2 linked regions of the Homo sapiens genome follow. The protein of the gene in region 1 interacts with the protein of each later gene in a pairwise test. Each region holds a gene or a part of one and is shown in the gene's direction. Other genes may lie near its edges. The genes, in order: TEX19 and ZNF490.

Region 1 (10,752 bases):
GGCACGCCCAGTATCTGGAGCTTCTGGGTTGATTTGAGGGTTGTTCTGTGTGTCCAGGCCATGTGGGTTGGGCCACGGCCTGTGGCTAGGGTCTTTATGGAGCAGGATTGAGCCACATGTGGACAGGGTCCCTGTGGAGTAGGATTGAGGCCCCCTAATCTCCCAGCTCATTCTGCACAACTTTGGTTTTGCTCTGATTTAAAAATGAACAGATTAAACTGAAGTAAATATTTCAAGCTGTTTTTAACAAAAAAAAGGTGTTATTCATCATGCACAGTGCCCTCACTCAGATGACAGACAGCAATGAGCTTGGCTCTGCGGGGGCAGGCAGCTGGTGGCTGAGGGTGAGGCCAGCATGACATGGCTCTGATTTACCCAAAATGTTTAATACTTGCCATTTTTTTCTTAGTCTCATTTAATGTCTTTTTTTTTTTTTTTTTTTTTTGGAGACAGAGTCTCACTCTGTTGCCCAGGCTGGAGTGCAGTGGCGCAATCTCGGCTCACTGCAACCTCTACCTCCCGGGTTCAAGCAATTCTTCTGCCTCAGCCTCCCGTGTAGCTGGGATTACAGGCTCCCATCACCATGCCCAGCTAATTTTTGTATTTTTAGTAGAGACGGGGTTTCACCATGTTGGCCAGGCTGGTCTCGAACTCCTGACCTCCGGTGAGCCACCTGCCTTGGCCTCCCAAAGTGCTGGGATTACAGACGTGAGCCACCGTGCGGGGCTGTTTAATGTCTTTTTATGGAGATGCATTTTGTAGGGTGATGAGAGATGAGAGCAGAAAACAAAATCAAGCACCAGGGCCCCAGGTATGCGTCTTCCACATTTGGTTTATTTGATGAAGGAGTTCATGGCTAACAGGGCCCTATAGCCCAAGTGTGACCCAGATCTTTAGAACTGCGGGCCCTCCCTCAACTCCATCTCACCCAGTAGCATGAACCCTAAATCTACTATGGAGGCCTTAGGGAGAGAGGGTGTAGGAGGGTGGCTGCACTCTCATACCTTCCTACATCTGCTGGAGCCCAGGGCCCCCATCACAGGCAGCACCTGCTCCTGTAGGCTACAGACAGGGTCACGCAGGCGCCTGGAAACCGCTGCCAACTGCCAGGATTGGGTCTGCACCTGCCCCGGCCTCCCTGGCCCTGGGTGATGGGGGGAAGCCAAGAGGGGAGAGTCCCAGGGAACGTGACCCCCAAGTGTGTGGCTGCCCCGCCCCTCGCGGGTGTTCAAAGGCCAGGAGCCCTGGGATATTGGGAGGATGTTTCAGTATCCCCAAACCTGAAGGCACCCAGACTTCCAGAAAAGGCTGGCAATGGAGAGACAGGCAGCTTCTTTCTAAGCTGCATCATACCAGGAGGTCGCCAGGGGCACAGAGCTGCCCAGGGGCAGTGTTTCCACAGGTTTGGGCTATGGAAATGGGGACTTCTGGCCATCCTTCCTCTCTGGCCTTCTTCCAGCATCTCCCTCCAGGAGACACCAGTCCCCTTTCCCCATGGGACCACTCAGAGTCATGTCCAAGACCTTCCCCAATGGTGGTCTTTGCTGACATCTTAGGGCAGCCCCCACCCTTGCCACTGTGGATGAAGAAATCTCCTGGGGTGGTGGGGGCTCTGCTTCCTGGGGTCTCACGTGGCCGCCTCCACCCCCTCACTTGGTCCCCAGCTGCCTGGAAACCCACCCTAGATGGACTCAAGTTATCTGCAGATGTGTTTGACAGAACAGCAAGGATGTACCTGCAGTTTTGAAGACCCTGGGCTGGGCGGGATCACCACCTCTGCCTTTTTAGGGAAGGGACCCACAATTCCCAGCACTCATTTGCTCTTTTGCTGCTCAGGGACTGTCACTGCACAGGCCCTGGGGCCTATGGAGGAGTCACAGACTCTGGACTCAGGATGGGGCCCCAGGCCCCAACCAGGCTCTGGCCCAGCCCAGGGAAGATAATAATGCCCACCTTATGGAAATCCCACCCCAGGAGGGTTCAGGACAGACCCCAGGAGTGTTCAGGACAGAGCCCAGGAGTGTTCAGGACAGAGCCCAGGAGGGTTCAGGACAGACCCCAGGAGGGTTCAGGACAGACCCCAGAAGGGTTCAGGACAGAGCCCAGGAGGGTTCAGGACAGACCCCAGGAGGGTTCAGGACAGAGCTGGCCACAGCCGGGTACAGCGCCCAGGCCCTCTCTCCTTCCTTCCTCTCCTGCAACCATTCTTCCTACTTGAGAGTAAGATACAGAGACCTTGCTTTTTGCACTCTCTGGAGAATGTGTGACTGGTGATGTTCTTTCCTCTTATTTGCTTGCCTGTTTTCTAAATGTTTGATAATGAATTTGTTTACTTTGAAATAAGCAAACAATACCAAAAGTTATTTTTAAAAGGACAGCCTCTAAGTCCATGATTACAATTTGGATGATGAGCCAGTGTGGTCGAGGGTGTTCTGATCCTCACACAGCACTGGTGACAGACCTGACCAGGGCACGTGGAGGTGCTTCCACATGGCAGTGGCTTCTTGGTCCTTCAGAAGGATGGAGGCCACCAATGGGCCACGGAGCTGAGTAGGTGGACAAAGCAAATGAGCAGGAAGGGTGGGCTGGGAGTGAGGGGAGGGTGACTGTGGTCCCCTGGATAGTCTGTTGTAAAGAAGCCACCTCGGCTGGGCACGGTGGCTCATGCCTGTCATCCCAGCACTTTGGGAGGCCAAGGCGGGTGGATCACGAGGTCAAGAGATTGAGACCATCCTGGCCAACATGGTGAAACCCCATCTCTACTAAAAATACAAAAATCAGCTGGGCATGGTGACAGGCACCTGTAATCTCAGCTACTTGGGAGACTGAGGCAGGAGAATCACTTGAACCCGGGAGGTGGAGGTTGGCGTGAGCTGAGATCGCGCCATTGCACTCCAGCCTGGGCAACAAAAGTGAAAGTCCATCTCAAAAACAAACAAAAGAAACAGGCAGCTTCTCAGAACACATCTGTCCTCCATGTCCACGGGCGCATCCCACCCCTGGCCACCACCGTGTGGCTTTTCTCCGTGGAAGCAGAGGCCATGCATCACTCCCACAGGCAGCCTCTCTCTGACGAGCCTCAGTAGTAAATTCATGCAAGAAACAAAGAAAACTGCTCCTGTCCTTCTTCAGTGCTGTGCGGAGGAGCGAGAGGGAAAAGCCAACCATAACGCCATTGCATGTGCTGCTGAAATGCTTTGTGCAAACGTTGAGACTGGAGGTGAGGGCGGAACTTTGTAATATAAGAGCAGTAAGATAAATGTTGATTTTAAAATCCAAGTACTTGGACTTTGCTAGAATATTCCATAATCTTTTCCTGGTCTTGATTATTAAACAGTTTTCAAGAAAGTTCTATTTGGTGAGTCACCTGATGATCTAAACACACTTTTCTTTCTTGTTTGATTCCAGCTGGGTCACCTGCCAACAGAACCAAGCCCACTTGGGTTTTGGAGGCTTTGGGGGCTGGCTGGTTTCCCTGGGCATGATTGGTGACCTCAGGTCAGATTCCTGGACTTGCTGGGGATCCTGTGCCCAGGAAGGCACCAGCCCAGGAGGCTCTGAGCCTCAGCCAGGGATGCAGCAGGTTGGTAGCACCTTGGCAGCCATCCCGAGGACACAGGTAAGAAGCCAACAGAGAAGCAAGAATGTGTCTTATTAAAGCTGCTCCACTCCACAAGCATCTCTGGAATGTTCTCTGGGCCCCGGATCTGCGCGAGGCATTCTGGGTGAGACAGAGACGAAGCCGCTTGAGCTCGGAAGCCGGTGCTCAAAGAGCGTGACGTGGCCTCACCCCATTCCTCTGCAGGGCTCAGCTGGCACCTGCACCCCCGAGGTAGCTGGGGGCCCCTGAGCTTGGCCAGGCCCATCTGGCAGCCTTGTCCCTGCTTGTCCACCCCCTCTGGGTTGCGTTCAGCTTCCTGAGCTCCCCCTCTTCACCCGTTCCTAACACAAGAGCTTGTGCACCCCAGGATGGTGGGGATGGGGTTCTGGCTCGTGGGCAATCTGGGTGTCAGGCTTACGGCCCCAGTGGCTCCGGGTCATGGCCTTGGCCCCACAATGGCTGTGCTGCCCCATCAGTGGTCTCTGCAGCTGGGGAAATGCCTGGTCCTTCTGGAGATACAGGAGTGTTGGATTCCCCGATTATGGCCACGTCCTGTTCCTCTGGTACCATCCACCCACCAAGTCTTGCCACGGTTTCCCTCTGGGCCTCAAATCCAGCTGTCCATCCCAACATCTGTCTCAAGTGGCCTCTCCTGTACCCAGCTGCCCAGGAAGCGATCCAAAGGCTCCGTCCCAGGCTGCTGAGGTGACTGAGGACCTTGAGAGGGTCCTACACTCTCAGACCAGGGTGAGGCCGAGGCCCGAGAGGCAAGTCCCTGCCCAGGCCCTGGCTGGCCAGGACGCGCTGGCCACAGCTTCCCAGAGTGGACGCTGCCCTGCACCCGCCAACACTTCCCCGTCAGCTTCCCGGTCCCACACCGCTCCTGCTGGCAACGAGGTCGCAGCATATTAAATTCTCGACGCAACTACTGTGTGAAAAAGCCATGCAAACCAGCGAGGAGCCTGCTTACCACAGGGGCCCTCAGAGGGCTCTGCTGCTCCTCGGTCAAAACCTCCTTTAGGCAGTGACTCTGGCAGCTGCCGGCTGGGCTGTGTCCTGAGAACTGAGGCTGGGAGGGGCCAGGTGGGAGGGACCTCATCCTCCAGGCGCCCACTGGCCCAGCCCTGAGTGTTCACGACAGGTGCAGGGCTCCCTCCCCGGCCCCCTTCTGGCCAGGGCAGCCACAGCTCAGCCCCGAGGCCTTGAGTGGCCTTTTCAGAGAAAACCAGGACCTGGGGGCTCCTCCCGGGAGCCTCTGACCCCCAGACCCATAAACAGGCTTCTCTGTGGGGTCCCTCAACCACTACTTTCCTCTCACCTGAGGGGACCAGCCAGACAGCTCAGGCACCCGAGTCTTTAGGGAATGAGCTCACTGCCCTCTCCACCCACAGCAGGACACCTGGCAGCCAAAGCCCCACACCTGCCCCTATCCCAGGACTGGGACGAGGAAGCCCCAGGGTGAGGGGTGGCCCTGATCTGAGCCCTAACCTGGTGGGGGTGGCAGGCAGCCCCAGGTGTGTGGATGACCTGAGCCAGGCACAGACAGCTGCCAGGTGGGGAGGAGCAGAGGTCATGGGGATGTAGGGAAAGGGTTTGGGGGTTCCTCCCACAGGGCCACTGTGTGAGACAATTTGTCACTTTCTTACAAAACTAAACACACTCTGACCACAGCATCCAGCAATCTCACTCCTTAGAGTTTACCAAAATGAGTTGAGAACTTATGTCTACAGACACCTGCACATGAATATTTGTAGTAGCTTTATTCATAATTGCCCAAACCTGGGAGCAACCAAGATGTCTTTCCATAGGTGAATGGATAAATAAACCATGGTACATCCAGACAATGGAATACCATTCAGTGTTAAAAAATAAGTGAGCTGGCCATGCAAGGTGGCTCACGTCTGTAATCCCAGCACTGTGGGAGGCAGAGGCAGGCGGATCACTTGAGCCCAAGTGTTTGATACCAGTGTGGGCAACATGGTGAGGCCCTGTCTCACAAAAAATACAAAACTTATCGGGGTGTGCACCAGCACCTGTAGTCCCAGCTATTTGGGAGGCTGAGGTGAGAAAATCACAGGAGCCCAGGAGGTTGAGGCTGTAGTAGCTGTGATTTCACCAGTGCATTCCAGCCTGGGTGACAGAGCAAGACTCTGTCTCAAAAAAAAAAAAAAAAAAAAAAAGAAGTGAACTATCAAACCACAAAAGACATGGAAGAACCAAAGTGCGTATTACTAAAAAAGAAGTTGAAAAGGCTACATAATGTATGAGTCCAGCTCTGTGACATTTTGGAAAAGGCAAAATTAAGGAGACAGTCAAAAGATTCCTGGTTGCCAGGGGCTGGGAGAGGGAGTGATGAAAATGCAGAACACAGATGAATCGGGGCGGAGAAACCCGTCTGTACAATATTAGAGTGGTGGGTCTGCATGATTATACATGTGTCCAAACCTGCAGAATGCACAGCACCGGAGGAAAGCATAATGGAAACTGCAGAGGGCGATGATGATAATAACAACGTGTAACAAATGGCTGGGACGGGAGGACTGGGGAAGGCTGTGCACCTGCAGGAGCAGGGGAGCGGTGGGAGAGCTCCATGCTTTTGGCTCAATTTTGCTATGAACCTAAAACTGCTGTAAAAAATAGAGTCTACTGAAAAAACAAGTGTTAATTTATAAGCGTCTTGTTTAAAGAGCGAAGAGATGAACCACAAAGGGGAAAATGTGTTTAAACAATAACTAATTGACAATTGGCTGGTTCTTAAAATTCAGAGAACTTTAAGACAGAGACAGCAAAGCAGGGATCACGTTTTACAAACGCGGCAGGACCAGGACGTCGTGCCCACGACGGGCCAGCAACCACAGGCTGGATGCTCACCCTGTGCCAGCCTGCAGACGGAGAGCACCCACCCCAATCTCCAGCCCCCAGAGGAGCTGCCTCTCCAGGGCCTTCCTGCAGGTGCCCAGGGGCTGCACATGGCCCTCCTTGGAGGGAGCTGGTGACTCAGCACTTTCATTTCCTGGAAACTGAGGCTCATGGGAGATATGCAGATGAGCCCAGAGCACCATGGGAAATGGCCCTTTATATACCCAAATGGGCTCTGCCTCCTCCTTTCCCTGGGTGCCCACATGAACAGAGACACCAGGATGGTGAGATCTCCCGAGGAGGGGTCTCTGAGGAGGGGTCTCGGAGACACGGCCTGGTGCTGGGTGAGGGGTTGGGAGGCTGAAGCGGGGCCAGGATTCCTCAGGTTCCCTCAGTTTCCCTCAAATTTCCCTCAGTTTCCCTCAGGTTCCCTAAGGTTCTCCAAGTTCCCTCAAATTTCCCTCAGTTTCCCTCAGGTTCCCTCAGTTTCCCTCAAGTTTCCCTCAGTTTCCCTCAGGTTCCCTCAGTTTCCCTCAGGTTCCCTCAGTTTCCCTCAAGTTTCCCTCAGTTTCCCTCAGGTTCCCTCAGTTTCCCTCAAGTTTCCCTCAGGTTCCCCCAGTTTCCCTCAAGTTTCCCTCAGCTTCCCTCAGGTTCCCCCAGTTTCCCTCAGGTTCCCTCAGTTTCCCTCAAGTTTCCCTCAGTTTCCCCCAGTTTCCCTCAAATTTCCCTCAGTTTCCCTCAGGTTCCCTCAGTTTCCCCCAGCTTCCCTCAGGTTCCCTCAGTTTCCCTCAAGTTCCCCTCAGTTTCCCCCAGTTTCCCTCAGGTTCCCCCAGTTTCCCTCAAGTTCCCCTCAGGTTCCCCCAGTTTCCCTCAAGTTTCCCTCGGGTTCCCCCAGTTTCCCTCAGGTTCCCCCAGTTTCCCTCAGTTTCCCTCAAGTTTCCCTCAGGTTCCCCCAGTTTCCCTCAGGTTCCCTCAGTTTCCCTCAAGTTTCCCTCAGGTTCCCCCAGTTTCCCTCAGGTTCCCTCAGGTTCCCCCAGTTTCCCCCAGGTTCCCCCAGTTTCCCCCAGTTTCCCTCAAGTTTCCCTCAGGTTCCCCCAGTTTCCCTCAGGTTCCCTCAGTTTCCCTCAAGTTTCCCTCAGGTTCCCCCAGTTTCCCTCAGGTTCCCTCAGTTTCCCTCAGGTTCCCCCAGTTTCCCCCAGGTTCCCCCAGTTTCCCCCAGTTTCCCTCAAGTTTCCCTCAGGTTCCCCCAGTTTCCCTCAGGTTCCCTCAGGTTCCCCCAGTTTCCCCCAGTTTCCCTCAGGTTCCCCCAGTTTCCCTCAGGTTCCCTCAGTTTCCCTCAGGTTCCCCCAGTTTCCCTCAGTTTCCCCCAGTTTCCCTCAAGTTTCCCTCAGGTTCCCCCAGTTTCCCTCAGGTTCCCTCAGTTTCCCTCAGGTTCCCCCAGTTTCCCTCAGGTTCCCTCAAGTTTCCCTCAGGTTCCCCCAGTTTCCCTCAGGTTCCCTCAGGTTCCCTCAGTTTCCCTCAGGTTCCCCCAGTTTCCCTCAGTTTCCCCCAGTTTCCCTCAAGTTTCCCTCAGGTTCCCCCAGTTTCCCTCAGGTTCCCCCAGTTTCCCTCAGGTTCCCTCAGTTTCCCTCAGGTTCCCCCAGTTTCCCTCAGGTTCCCTCGGGTTCCCTCAAGTTTCCCTCAGGTTCCCCCAGTTTCCCTCAGGTTCCCTCAGTTTCCCTCAAGTTTCCCTCAGGTTCCCCCAGTTTCCCTCAGGTTCCCCCAGTTTCCCTCAAGTTTCCCTCAGGTTCCCCCAGTTTCCCTCAGGTTCCCCCAGTTTCCCTCAGGTTCCCTCAGTTTCCCCCAGTTTCCCTCAGGTTCCCCCAGTTTCCCTCAGGTTCCCTCAGTTTCCCCCAGTTTCCCTCAAGTTTCCCTCAGGTTCCCCCAGTTTCCCTCAGGTTCCCTCAGTTTCCCTCAGGTTCCCCCAGTTTCCCTCAGGTTCCCTCAGTTTTCCCCAGTTTCCCTCAGGTTCCCTCAGTTTCCCTCAGGTTCCCTCAGTTTCCCCCAGTTTCCCTCAGGTTCCCCCAGTTTCCCTCAGTTTCCCTCAGGTTTCCTCAAGTTGCCTCAGTTTCCTTCAGGTTCCCTCAATTTCCATCAGGTCCCCTCAGGCTCTGCCAGTTTCCCTCAGGTTCCCCCAGTTTCCCTCAGGTTCCCTCAGTTTCCCCCAGTTTCCCTCAGGTTCCCCCAGTTTCCCCCAGTTTCCCTCAAGTTTCCCTCAGGTTCCCCCAGTTTCCCTCAGTTTCCCCCAGTTTCCCTCAGGTTCCCCCAGTTTCCCTCAGTTTCCCTTAGGTTTCCTCAAGTTGCCTCAGTTTCCTTCAGGTTCCCTCAATTTCCATCAGGTCCCCTCAGGCTCTGCCAGTTTCCCTCAGGTTCCCCCAGTTTCCCTCAGGTTCCCTCAGTTTCCCCCAGTTTCCCTCAGGTTCCCTCAGTTTCCCCCAGTTTCTCTCAGGTTCCCCCAGTTTCCCTCAGTTTCCCCCAGTTTCCCTCAGGTTCCCCCAGTTTCCCTCAGGTTCCCTCAGGTTCCCCCAGTTTCCTTCAGGTTCCCTCAATTTCCATCAGGTCCCCTCAGGCTCTGCCAGTTTCCCTCATGTTCCCCCAGGTTCTGTCAGGTGAAGCTGATGGGCTGTTGGGGTCCCTGAGGTGTAGGGGGTGGCTGATGAGCCCGGGGAGGTCGGATGGAGGAACTGAAGGCCTCCCAGCCCCGGTGCTGTTCAAACTGAGCAGGGTCCCCACTAAAGGGCCAGTCTGAACCCCAACATCCCTGCCCCTGCTGGTCCCCACAGTTTGCCCCCACCCTGCCTGCTGGGGGTGCCTAACCTCCCTTCCTTTGCCTTTCCAGCTCTCCTGAGACCACAGCAACTGCAGAAGCTGAAGACATTTCCAGAAGTTCAAGCTTCCACCCTCTGCAGGTCCCCACTGAGCTGGGACCCAGGTCATCCACCCCACCCCAAATCCCTGGATAGGAAACCCCTTTCTCCTCCTGCTCCTTGTCCCCTTCATCCCTGCCGCCCAGCATCCTACTGGCCTCAGCACCTGTGGCCAGACCGTCCAAGATCCTCTGAAGGCCCAGCTCTTGCTGTCCACCCCGGCAGTAGGCAGGCAGCCTGGCCATGTGCCCTCCGGTCAGCATGCGGTATGAGGAAGAGGGCATGTCCTACCTCTACGCCTCCTGGATGTATCAGCTTCAACATGGAGATCAGCTAAGCATTTGCTTCACCTGCTTCAAGGCTGCCTTTCTAGACTTTAAAGACTTGCTGGAGTCAGAGGACTGGGAAGAAGACAACTGGGACCCTGAGCTGATGGAGCACACTGAGGCAGAGTCAGAGCAGGAGGGGTCCTCAGGGATGGAGCTGAGCTGGGGGCAGAGCCCAGGACAGCCTGTGCAGGGGGGCTCTGAGGCATGGGGGCCAGGGACCCTGGCAGCAGCCCCAGAAGGGTTGGAAGATGCAGGTCTGGACCCCCACTTTGTCCCCACTGAACTATGGCCTCAGGAGGCTGTGCCCCTGGGCCTGGGCCTTGAGGATGCTGACTGGACCCAGGGTCTTCCCTGGAGATTTGAGGAGCTTCTTACCTGCTCACACTGGCCAAGCTTCTTTCCTTCATAGCAGGGGTTTCTCAAAGTGGACCTGCCCCCAGGGGAGCCCGTGGTGTTGAAGCTGGGCATTACCTGGGCAGTGGACCCTGCCGAGGCTGAGGCCTAGTTACTGGCCCTGCAGCTTGTCTCCATGGTGGGCTGCTATGATACCATCTACCTACAGAAGATGACCCCAGACAGGGCCCTGAGGACCCCAGGGCAGCACTGGAAATTGCTGCTGGAGCCTGGTGAAGTGTGGGTGGTGAGACTCCAAGATGCACCCCAAGAGCAGGACCTGCACTGGTGGATGCTGAGCATTCTAGAAACATCGTTAACAGGACACAGGGCAGAGCTGGTCCCTGCAGCCTCAGCCCTGCAGAAGAGGATTCACCATAGTCTCTTATTCACCCTGGACCAACAGGGAGAGCAAGAAGGGAGACTCAGCCTGTAAGCCACAGTCCTCCAGCCAAGAACAGGATCTCAGCACCCCTGAGACACAGAGCAGGGGTCCTGAGGAAAGCCTGGCTGTTGCAGGAGCCTCGGCCATGGGGGAGCTGCCCTGTTTCCAGCCTCAGTCCAGGGCCCCAGAACTGAGAGACTAAGGCTCATGTAGCTGCCATTGTCCTGGGCACACCAGGACATCAGAGACTGGGAAGGGCCAGCAATTGCTGTTCCACAA
Region 2 (10,468 bases), on another chromosome or scaffold:
AACAATGCTTCCAAGGCTGTCAAAGGTCATGTTTAGTTCTAAATTGCTGAAACTCACAAAATGCATCCTCTTGTTTCTAATTAGATGCAGAACAGTGAACACCATGGACAAAGCATCAAGACTCAAACTGTAAGTGAGATCGCTACCTGTCAGCGTGGCTACCTTCCTTGTTTATAATGACCATTTGGGTCTGTCCTTCTATGACCTCTTTGTGGGGGGGTCTTTCGGGTCTTTGTGAAGGCACTCCCATAGTCAAGGCCAATAACCAGGCTCTCAGGTATGTCCTGTTCATTGCCCTCACCCTGTACTTCCATTGTCCCTTACCTTCATTGGCCATCCCAACACAGCCACCTGCATCCTTTGGAATATCACATTTGGGCTGGGTGCAGTGGCTCATGCCTGTAATCCTGGCACTTTGGGAGACTGAGGTAGGAGGATTGCTTGAGTTCAGGAGTTTGAGACCAGTGTGGGCAATGTAGTGAGACTCTGTCTCTACAAAAAATAAAAAAAATGGCTGGGTGTAGTAGCTCATGCCTGTAATCTCAGCACTTTGGGAGGCAAGGTGGGTGGATCACTTGAGGCCAGGAGTTGGTTTCCAACCTGGCCAACATGCTGAAACCTCATCTCTATTAAAAATATTTTTTAAGTTAGCTGGGCATGGTGGGAGGCACACCTGTAATCTCAGCTACTTGGGTGGCTGAGGCATGAGAATCACTTGAATCTGGGAGGAGGAGGTTGCAGTGAGCTGAGATCGCGCCACTGTACTCCAGCCTGGGCAACAGAGTGAAACTCTGTCTCAAAAATAAATAAATAAATAAATAAATAAATACATAAATAAATAAAGATAAAAAATTAGCTGGGCATGGTGGCATAGTCCCAGGTCCTCGGGAGGCTGAGACGGGAGGATGGCTTCAACCTGAGGCTGCGGTGACCTGTGATGGTGCCACTGCACTCTAGCCTGGGCAACAGAGCGAGACCCTGTCTCAAAAAAACACAAAAACCACAAATTTGGAGTCATGTTTACTTGTTTGCATAGTTTGGACAAAACGATCACTGCAGTTCTGACCTTCAAGGTAAACATGCAAGAGACGGATAAGGCACGGGTTAGTGTCGGGGGTACCTAATTTTGTCATTGCTATCAGTTCCCTGATCTAAGTGACTCTGTAATCCCAACACTTTGGGATGCTGAAGTGGGAGGAATTTCATGGGGAATGACTACAGCCTTCATGCATGTGGATACATAATCTGAGCCTGAATATGTCATCTTCACATAAAACCACGATTTGGTTATTGACTGTTCTGTGAATCCTGGGTTCCTTGGCTCATGGGAGCTTCAATGTGGCTTTTCTGGCCAGGAACTTGCCTGACATTTTCAATAAGCCAATCCTTAAGTTCAGCATGCTGGTATTTTTCAGTGTCTGGGTCACCGTCCTTCCTGTCTACCAAAACCCGAAATGGGGAAGCTATCAATCCTGGCCTCCACTGATTTGCTGCTGCTTCTCTGTCTGCAGATGCTATGCTGTTCTTGTTTGTTCCTTTTTTTTTTTTTTGAGACAGGGATCTTGCTGTGTTGCCCAGGCTGGTCTCAAGCTCCTGGCTTCAAGCAATTCTCCTGCCTCAACCTCCCAAAGTGCAGGGATTACAGGTGTGAGTCACTATGCCTGGCCTGAGTTTTCAGTTTTTGACAGTGCTCAGTATATGTGGTGGCACACATTTGGACTTTAATACTGAGAAGTTCCATTATTATTACTGTTATTATATTGTATTACTATTACTATTATGTTCTGTCACCCAGGCTGGAGTGCAGTGGCAAGATCACAGCTCACTGTAGACTCAACTTCACAGGCTCCCTAGTAGCTGGGACTAGTAGCTGGAACTAGGACTAGGTGTGCGCCACCACGCTTGGCTAATTTTAAAAAAATTCTTTTTTTAGCCAGGTGTGGTTGTGCACATCTGTAATCCCAGCTATTTGGGAGGCTGAGGCAGGAGAATTGCTTGAACCCAGAAGGTGGAGGTTGCAGTGAGCCGAGATCATGCCACTGCACTCTAGCCTGGGTGACAGAGTGAGACTCCACCTCAAAAAAAAAAAAAAATTTAAATTTTTTAAATTTTAGAGACAGGGTCCTGCTATGTTGCCCAGGCTGATCTTGAACTCCTGGACTCAAGTGATCCTCCCACATCAGCCTCCCAGTGTTGGGATGGTAGGCGTGAGCTACCACACCTGGCCAATTTCATTATTACTTATGAGCCATATGAGTTTAGACAAGACTTTGTGCTCTCCATACTTAACTTTTTTCATTTGCAAGATGGGAGGTATGATTGGGTGGGGCTAATCAAATGAAATACTAATGATTATGAAATCACATTAGTCACCACAGTGATGTGCAAACATAAATTATTGAAATATTGAATAAAAATGGGATTTTATTTGTTCTTTAGTAAAACACAAAGCTGTTCATTTTTTTTCTTTCCTAACATGTGCTGGAAATCTACCATATGGAAATGATACTTGTGAATGGTCATGGACTTTTAGGCCTTTGCTGATCATTAAAATAAAAATCTTCCAGTGATTCCTTTTATAAAAGGACATCAAAGCCTGGGCAACAGAGTGAAATCCTGTCTCTATAAAAATAAAAAAAATTGGCCAGGTGCAGTGGCTCACACCTGTAATCCTAGCACTTTGGGAGGCTGAGGTGGGTAAATCACTTGAGGTCAGGAGTTCAAGACCAGCCTGGCCAACATGGCGAAACCGCATCTCTACTAAAATACAAAAAATTAGCGGGGCATGGTGGTGCACACCTGTAGTCCCAGCTACTCAGCAGGCTGAGGCAGAAGAATTGCTTGAACTCAGGAGGCAGAGGTTGCAGTGAGCTGAGATCATGCCACTGCACTCTAGCCTGGGCAACAGATAGAGACCCTGTCTCAAAAAAAAAAAAAAAAAAAGAATTACCCAGGGTGGTGGCATGTGCCTGTAGTCCCATAGCAGAGATCCCTTGAGTCCAAGAGTTGGAGGCTACAATGACCTATGATTGTGCCACTGCACTCCAGCTTGGGCAATAGAGTGAGTCTCTGTCTCTAAAATGAAAAAAAAAAAAAATCCTATTTTAGGCCAGGCGCGGTGGCTCATGCCTGTAATCCCTGCACTTTGGGAGGCCGAGGTGGGTGGATCACCTGAGGTCGGGAGTTTGAGACCAGCCTGACCAACATGGAGAAACCCTGTTTCTACTAAAAATACAAAATTAGCGGGACGTGGTGGCACATGCCTGTAATCCCAGCTACTTGGGAGGCTGAGGCAGGATAATTGCTTGAACCCGGGAGGTGGAGGTTGCGGTGAGCCAAGATCATTGCACGCCAGCCTGGGCAACAAGAGCAAAACTCTGTCTCAAAAAAAAAAATTAAATTAAAAAAAAATCCTATTCGAGGGTCTCAAATACACTTTTCTTAAAGGGATAGGAAAACCATTAACAAAATATTTAACAGAATACTTCACTTCTGGTCCACCAATAACCACTTCTCAAGCAGACACCAGCTGGGTGTGCTATATAATTCAATTTAATTGTGACAGTATCTACCTGGAGACGGAGTCCAATACCAAAAGCTAACGGCTCACAAGAATGCCCCTCACTGCAAATGTCAGTTGTAAGTCCCAGGATGTGACCTATGCTTCTGACCAACAAGCTGTAAATCAGGGTTTTCATGACCCACTCTTTGGGTTTGATTAATTTGCTGTAGCAGCCTACAGAACTCACAGAAACACTTTACTTACATTCACCCATTTATTACAAAGTGTTTTTTTTTTTTTTAATAGAGCAGGGTTTCACTCTGTCTCCCAGGCTGGAGTGCAGTGGCAGGATCATAGCTCATTGCAGCCTTCAACTCTTGGGATCAAGCGATCCTCCCTCATCAGCCCCGCAAGTAGCTAGGAATATAGGCATGTGCCACCACACTCAACTAATTATTTATTTTTTGTAAAGTTAGGGTCTCGCTCTGTTGTCCAGGCTAGTCTCAACCTCCAGGTCTCAAGAGATCCTCCCACCTCGCTCCTCTCAAAGCACTGAGATTATAGGAGTGAGTCACTGTGCCTAGTCTTACAAAGGATATTTTATTATTTATTTATTTGTTTACTCTTTATTTTGAGACAGGGTCTCACTCTGTTGCCAGGCTGGAGTGTAGCAGCACGATCTTGGCTCACTGCAACCTCCATCTCCAGGGTTCAAATGATTCTCGTGTTTCAGCCTCCCGAGTAGCTGGAATGACAGGCATCCTCCACCACGCCCAGCTATTTTTGTATTTTTAGTAGAGAAGGGGTTTCACCATGTTGGCCAGGCTGGTCTCGAACTCCTGACCTCAAGTGATCCATCTGCCTTGGCCTCCCAAAGTGCTGGCATTACAGGTGTGAACCACTGCACCCAGCCTACAAAGGATATTTTATTTTATTTATTATTATTATTATTTTTTTTTTGAGACGGAGTTTTGCTCTTGTCGCCCAGGCTGGAGTGCAATGGCGCGATCTCAGCTCACTGCAACCTCTGCCTCCCAGGTTCAAGCAATTCTCCTGCCTCAGCTTCCCAAGTAGCTGGGATTACAGGCGCCCACCACCACGCCTGGCTAATTTTTTTTTTTTTGAGATAGAGTCTCACTCTTTTGCCCAGGCTGGAGTGCAGTGGCACAATCTTGGCTCACTGCAGCCTCTGCCTACCAGGGTCAAGTGATTCTCCTACCTCAGTCTCTCAAGTAGCTGGATTACAGGCCCATGCCACCATGCCCAGCTAATTTTTTTTCTGTGTGTCTATGTTTTTAGTAGAGGCAGGGTTTCACCATGCTGGCCAGGCTGGTCTCGAACTCCTGACCTCATGATCCGCCCACCTTGTCCTCCCAAAGTGCTGGGATTATAGGTGTGAGCCACTGCACCTGGCCTAATTTTTGTATTTTAAGTAGAGATGGGGTTTCATCATGTTGGTCAAGCTGGTCTTGAACTCCTGACCTCAAGTGATCCACCTGCCTCAGCCTCCCAAAGTGCTGGGATTACAGGCGTGAGCCACCACACCTGGCCCTACAAAGGATATTTTAAATGATACGAATGAACAGCCAGATGAAGAGATACCTCCAGGCATATGGTTATGTTCTTATTTACCAACCAGAAGGCTCTCTGAGCCGTGTTTTTGGGTTTTTATGGTGGCTTTATTATGGTGACATGATTAATCACATCATTCACTATGGGTGATCAACTCAACCTTCAGTTTTCTCTTCCCTCCCTGGAGGTGGGGACAGAGCTGAAAGTTTCAAAGCTCCAGTCACATGGTTGGTTCCCTGGCAACTAGCCTCACATCCTGTGGTTTGTAGGAGCTTTCCAAAAATCACCCCATTAACATAAACTTAGCTGTGGTGGAAAGGGGATGGTTATGAATAACTAAAGACATTTCTTCCACCTGTCACTCTGGAACTCTTCTAGAGCTATTTTAAGAACTGAATACAAAAGGCCATTTTTTTTTTTTTTTGAGATAGGGTCTCCTTCACTCTGTCACCCAGTGACAGTGGCACAATCTTGGCTCAATGCAGCCTCCACCCCCGGGTTCAAGCAATGATCCCACCACAGCCTCCTGAGTAGCTGGGACTACAGGTGCACGCCACCACATCTGGCTATTTTTTTCTATTTTTAGTAGAGATGGGTTTTCGCCATGTTGCCCAGACTGGTCTCAAACACCTGAGCTCAAGCATCCACCTACCTTGGCCTCCCAAAGTACTGGGATTACAGATGTGAGCCCCAGCGCCCAGCCTTTTTTTTGTTGTTTGTTTTTTGAGACAGAGTCTTACTCTGTCACCTAGGCTGGAGTGCAGTGGTGTCATCACAGCTCACTGCAGCCTTGACTTCCCTGAGCTCAGGTGACCCTCCCACCTCAACCTCTCAAGTAGCTGAGACTATAGGCACACACCCCTATGCCTGGCCAATTTTTGTATTTTTTGTAGAGATAGGATCTCACTGTGTTGCCCAGGCTGGTCTTGAACTCCTGGGCTCAAGCATCCTGCCTGCCTCAGCCTCCCAACATGGTGGGATTACAGGCAGCCCAAATATTTTAACAAAAGATACTCCAATTGCTCTAGTCGCTTAGGAAATTACAAGGTTTTTAGCAACTGTGAGCCAGGAACCCTGGACAAAACCCAAATTATATATTTCACAATATCACAACTTTCTTTTCCACCAAACTGGGGGGTGGTACTCAAAATGATACCCTCTCTCTGCAGTTTGATTCAATTATAACTTGGATATTCTCTAAGAATCCATAGTTCTTGTCTGTGTGTCAACTGGGAAATCACTGTGGATTTGAATAAGTACTCTGCACATAAGAAAAACCCATGATGGGGCCAGGTGTGGTGGCTCACACCTGTAATCCCAGCACTCTGGGAGGCTGAGGCAGGTGGATTGCATGAGCCCAGGAGTTTGAGACCAGCCTGGCCAACATGGCGAAACCTTGTTTCTACTAAAAATACAAAAAACTAGCCCGGCGTGGTGGTGCGCACCTGTAGGCCCAGCTTCTCGGGAGGCTGAGGTGAGAGAATCATCTGAGCCTGGGAGGTCAAGGCTGCAGTAAGCCGAGATCACACCACTGTACTCTAGCCTGCATAACCATAGTGAAACCTTGTCTCGACAAAAAAAAAAAAAAAGAAATATACATGATGGGCTGCACTGTGTAGATGACCATTACCCTCTAGGAAGACCTCAGTGGTTTTCTTTTTTTGAGACAGAGTCTTGCTCTATTGCCCAGGTTGGAGTCCAGTGGCATCATCTCGGCTCGCTGCAACCTTTGTCTCCTGGGTTTAAGTGATTCTCCTGCCTCAGCTTCCTACATAGTTGGGACTACAGGTGCCTGCCACCATGCCCAACTAATTATTTTTATTTTTTTGGTAGAGATGGGGTTTCACCCTGTTGGCCAGGCTGGTCTCAAGTTCCTGACCTCAGGTAATCCTCCTGCCTCGGCCTCCCGCAGTGCTGGGATTACAGGCGGGAGCTACCGCGCCAGCCAAAGGTTTTCTGATATACAATTTAATTTATGTCACCCAGTCTCCAGTAGCAGCAAAATTTTCATATCAAATACATGAGGCAATTCAGACATAGAGATCAATGGCATGAAATTGAAATTCCAGAAATAGGCCCATATATGTGTGTGTGTGTGTGTGTGTGTGTGTGTGTGTGTGTGTGTGTGTGTGTATATAGTGAACTGAGTTTCAAAAACGGTGCCAGGAATCGGGAAATAATATTATTTTCTTTTTTTACTTTTTTCTTTTTTTTTTGTTGAGTCAGAGTCTTGCTCTCTCGCCCAGGCTGGAGTGCAGTGGTGCGATCTCGGCTCACTGCAAGCTCCGCCTCCCGGGTTCACGCCATTCTCCTGCCTCAGCCTCCTGAGTAGCTGGGACTACAGGAGCCTGCCACCAAGCCCGGCTAATTTTTTTTGTATTTTTAGTAGAGACAGGGTTTCACCATGTTAGCCAGGATGGTCTCGATCTCCTGACCTCGTGATCCGCCCGCCTTGGCCTCCCAAAGTGCTGGGATTACAGGCCTATGCCACCGCACCTGGCCTAGAATATTATTTTCATAAATTGGTGTTGTGACAGTTGGATAGACATACAAAAAATAATAAAATTGGGCCGAGCACAGTGGCATGATCATCTGAGTCCTGGAGTTCAAGACCAGCCTGGGCAATATAGTGCAACCTCATATCTTATAAAAAAAAATTAGCCAGGTTTGTGGCATACACCTGTAGTCCCAGCTGCTTGATGGCTGAGGGAGGAGGATTGCTGGAGCCTGGGAGTTTTGGCTGCAGTGAGCTATGATTGTACCACTCTAGTCTAGCCTGGGTGACAGAGTGAGACCCCAATTCTTTGTTTTTGTTTTTTTTTTTTCAGACGGAGTCTTGCTCTGTCACCCAGGCTAGAGTGCAATGGCGCAATATCGGCTCATTGCAACCTTCGCCTCCCGGGTTCACACCATTCTCCTGCCTCAGCCTCCCGAGTAGCTGGGACTACAGGTGCCCGCCACCACGCCTGGCTAATTTTTTGTATTTTTAGTAGAGACGGAGTTTCACCGTGTTAGCCAGGATGGTCTCGATCTCCTGACCTCGTGATCTACCCGCCTTGGCCTCCGAAAGTGCTGGGATTACAGGCGTAAGCCAACGCACCTGGCCTTTTTTTTTTCTTTTTTTTTTGAGACAGGGTCTTACCCTGTCTCCCTGACTGGAAAGCTGTGAGCCTCAGCTCACTGCAGTCTCTGCCTTCCAGGCTCAAAGGATCCTCCCACCTCAGCCTCCCAAGTAGCTGGGGCTACAGGCGTGCACCACCACACCTGGCTAATTTTTGTATTTTTTGGAGAGACAGGTTGTGTCATGTTGGCCAGGCTGGTCTGGAACTCCTGGGCTTAAGTGATCCACCCACCTTGGCTTCCCAAAGTGCTAGGACAAGAGTCCTGAACATTTTTTCTCTATTCTGATGTCACAATCTCCAAAGTTATCTAAAACTTGCATTCAAGAGCACCTGTTAGAGCTTTATAGCTGATTATAAAACCACCTTCTAAAGAGGACCAAGACAAGACAACAATTATTTATGGATGACAAAGTTTTAGGGTAGCCATAGCTAAAGACACAATTGACAAGGAAATCTGTTACTCTGTGGCACACAATAATTTAACATAATAATTATAATTATTACTGATAACATACACTGATATATCAGAATTACAAGAGTTTTCCATCATTTTGGAACACATACCAATAACATATATATACAGATATAGTCCAAAGAAAGCCATACTCCATTTTATATTTGACTTTGCTTCCTCTATGATTTTTGTACCAAATAAGCCAAATTTCACATTTACATTAGTATACTATTACTGTTAAACCCAATTCTTTTCTTTTCTTTTTTTTTTTGAGACAGAGTCTCGCTCTTTCGCTCAGGCTGGAGTGCAGTGGCACATCTCGGCTCACTGCAACTTCCACCTCCTGGGTTCACACCATTCTCCTGCCTCAGCCTCCCGAGTAGCTGGGACTACAGGTGCCCGCCACCATGCCTGGCTAATTTTTTGTGTTTTTTTTTTAGTAGAGACGGGGTTTCACCATGTTAGCCAGGATGGTCTCGATCTCCTAACCTCGTGATCTGCCCGCCTCGGCCTCCCAAAGTGCTGGGATTACAGGCGTGAGCCACGGCGCCTGGCCTAAACCCAATTCTTAATAAAACCTTATAGACATATTTACCCAATTTTATAGACATATTTACGCCAATGTTTGGCAATTTTTATAGATTTTTTATTACCCTTTACAATTTTTGTTAAAGAGCAGGTTAGTGTTCTAAAAGAAAGCCGTTGTGCTTTTATTTTAATATTCAATTTACAGAAAAACTGGATAATACCCCCTTTAACTTTAGCCAATATGTTTACACACAGAATTTCTTTTACAATCAACCTTCCACAACTTGCTTAAACTTTCAGCTTTATTTTATCTAATTTAATCCATTAACCTTTTATTTAGGCAAAAAAAATCCACATTCCCATGCCTTCTTATAATCTTTTTACCAAAAGTATACTCTACTTTCCTTACACACCTTGCATGTAAAACTGTTTTTTCCAGTAGTCTCAATTACATGTTACAATATTGATTCTTAGCAACTTTTACTTTTGGTGAAAAACCTGGTAAGTGATTTTAATTATGGACCAGGTGGGGAGCCTAGGACCTAGACAGAAGTGCAGATAAGGTCTGACTCATTCTAGCATCTAACTTCTTGTGTCCCAGGCCTTCCCTAGCTGTAAAGCAGGCAGTTGTACAGTTAAGAGTCATAATGGCATTTTATGAAGCATTCAGGAGGCCTAAACACCTTTAAATTCTACAACATTTCTTCCATAAGTTCCCTTTCATAAATTCTTTCATGACTTACACTCTATGATATGCCTTGACTTTCTGACTTGTCCTAAACATCCCTCTTTTTAAACAACCAGTCATTTTTCTTTAGGACAAGAATCTATCATACAAGATCCTTTTTTATATAAAATATCTTTTCTTTATGCTTTTTTTAACCAAAAATACTTATTTATTTTTATAACTTTCTTTATGTCTCTTTTTTTTTCTTTTCTTTCTTTCTTTTTTTTTTTTTTTTTTTTTTTGAGACAGAGTCTTGCTCTGTTGCCCAGGCTGGAGTGCAGTGGCGTGATCTTGGGTCACTGCCCAGGTTCAAGCGATTCTCCTGCCTCAGCCTCCAGAATAGCTGGGATCACAGGCACCCCGCCACCACACCCAGCTAATTTTTTTTTTTTTTTGAGATGGAGTCTCGCTCTGTTGCCCAGGCTGGAGTGCAGTGATGCAGTCTCGGCTCACCGCAACCTCTGCCTCCCAGGTTCAAGCTATTTTCCTGCCTCAGCCTCCCTAGTAGCTGGGACTACAGGTGCGCGCCACCATGCCTAGCTAATTTTTGTATTTTTAGTAGA

What was found.
Region 2: the proteins of TEX19 (region 1) and ZNF490 interact in binary tests that used the Homo sapiens proteins (3 or more experiments, as listed by UniProt).

Annotation. Positions count from the first base shown.
Region 1 is NC_000017.11:82,352,542-82,363,293, forward strand, and holds the start of TEX19 (testis-expressed protein 19), read left to right. Parts: upstream 1-6,705; 5' UTR 6,706-6,744; intron 6,745-9,338; 5' UTR 9,339-9,609; coding exon 9,610-10,104; 3' UTR 10,105-10,752.
Region 2 is NC_000019.10:12,598,819-12,609,286, reverse strand, and holds part of ZNF490 (zinc finger protein 490), read left to right. Parts: intron 1-84; coding exon 85-129; intron 130-10,468. UniProt on the Homo sapiens protein: May be involved in transcriptional regulation.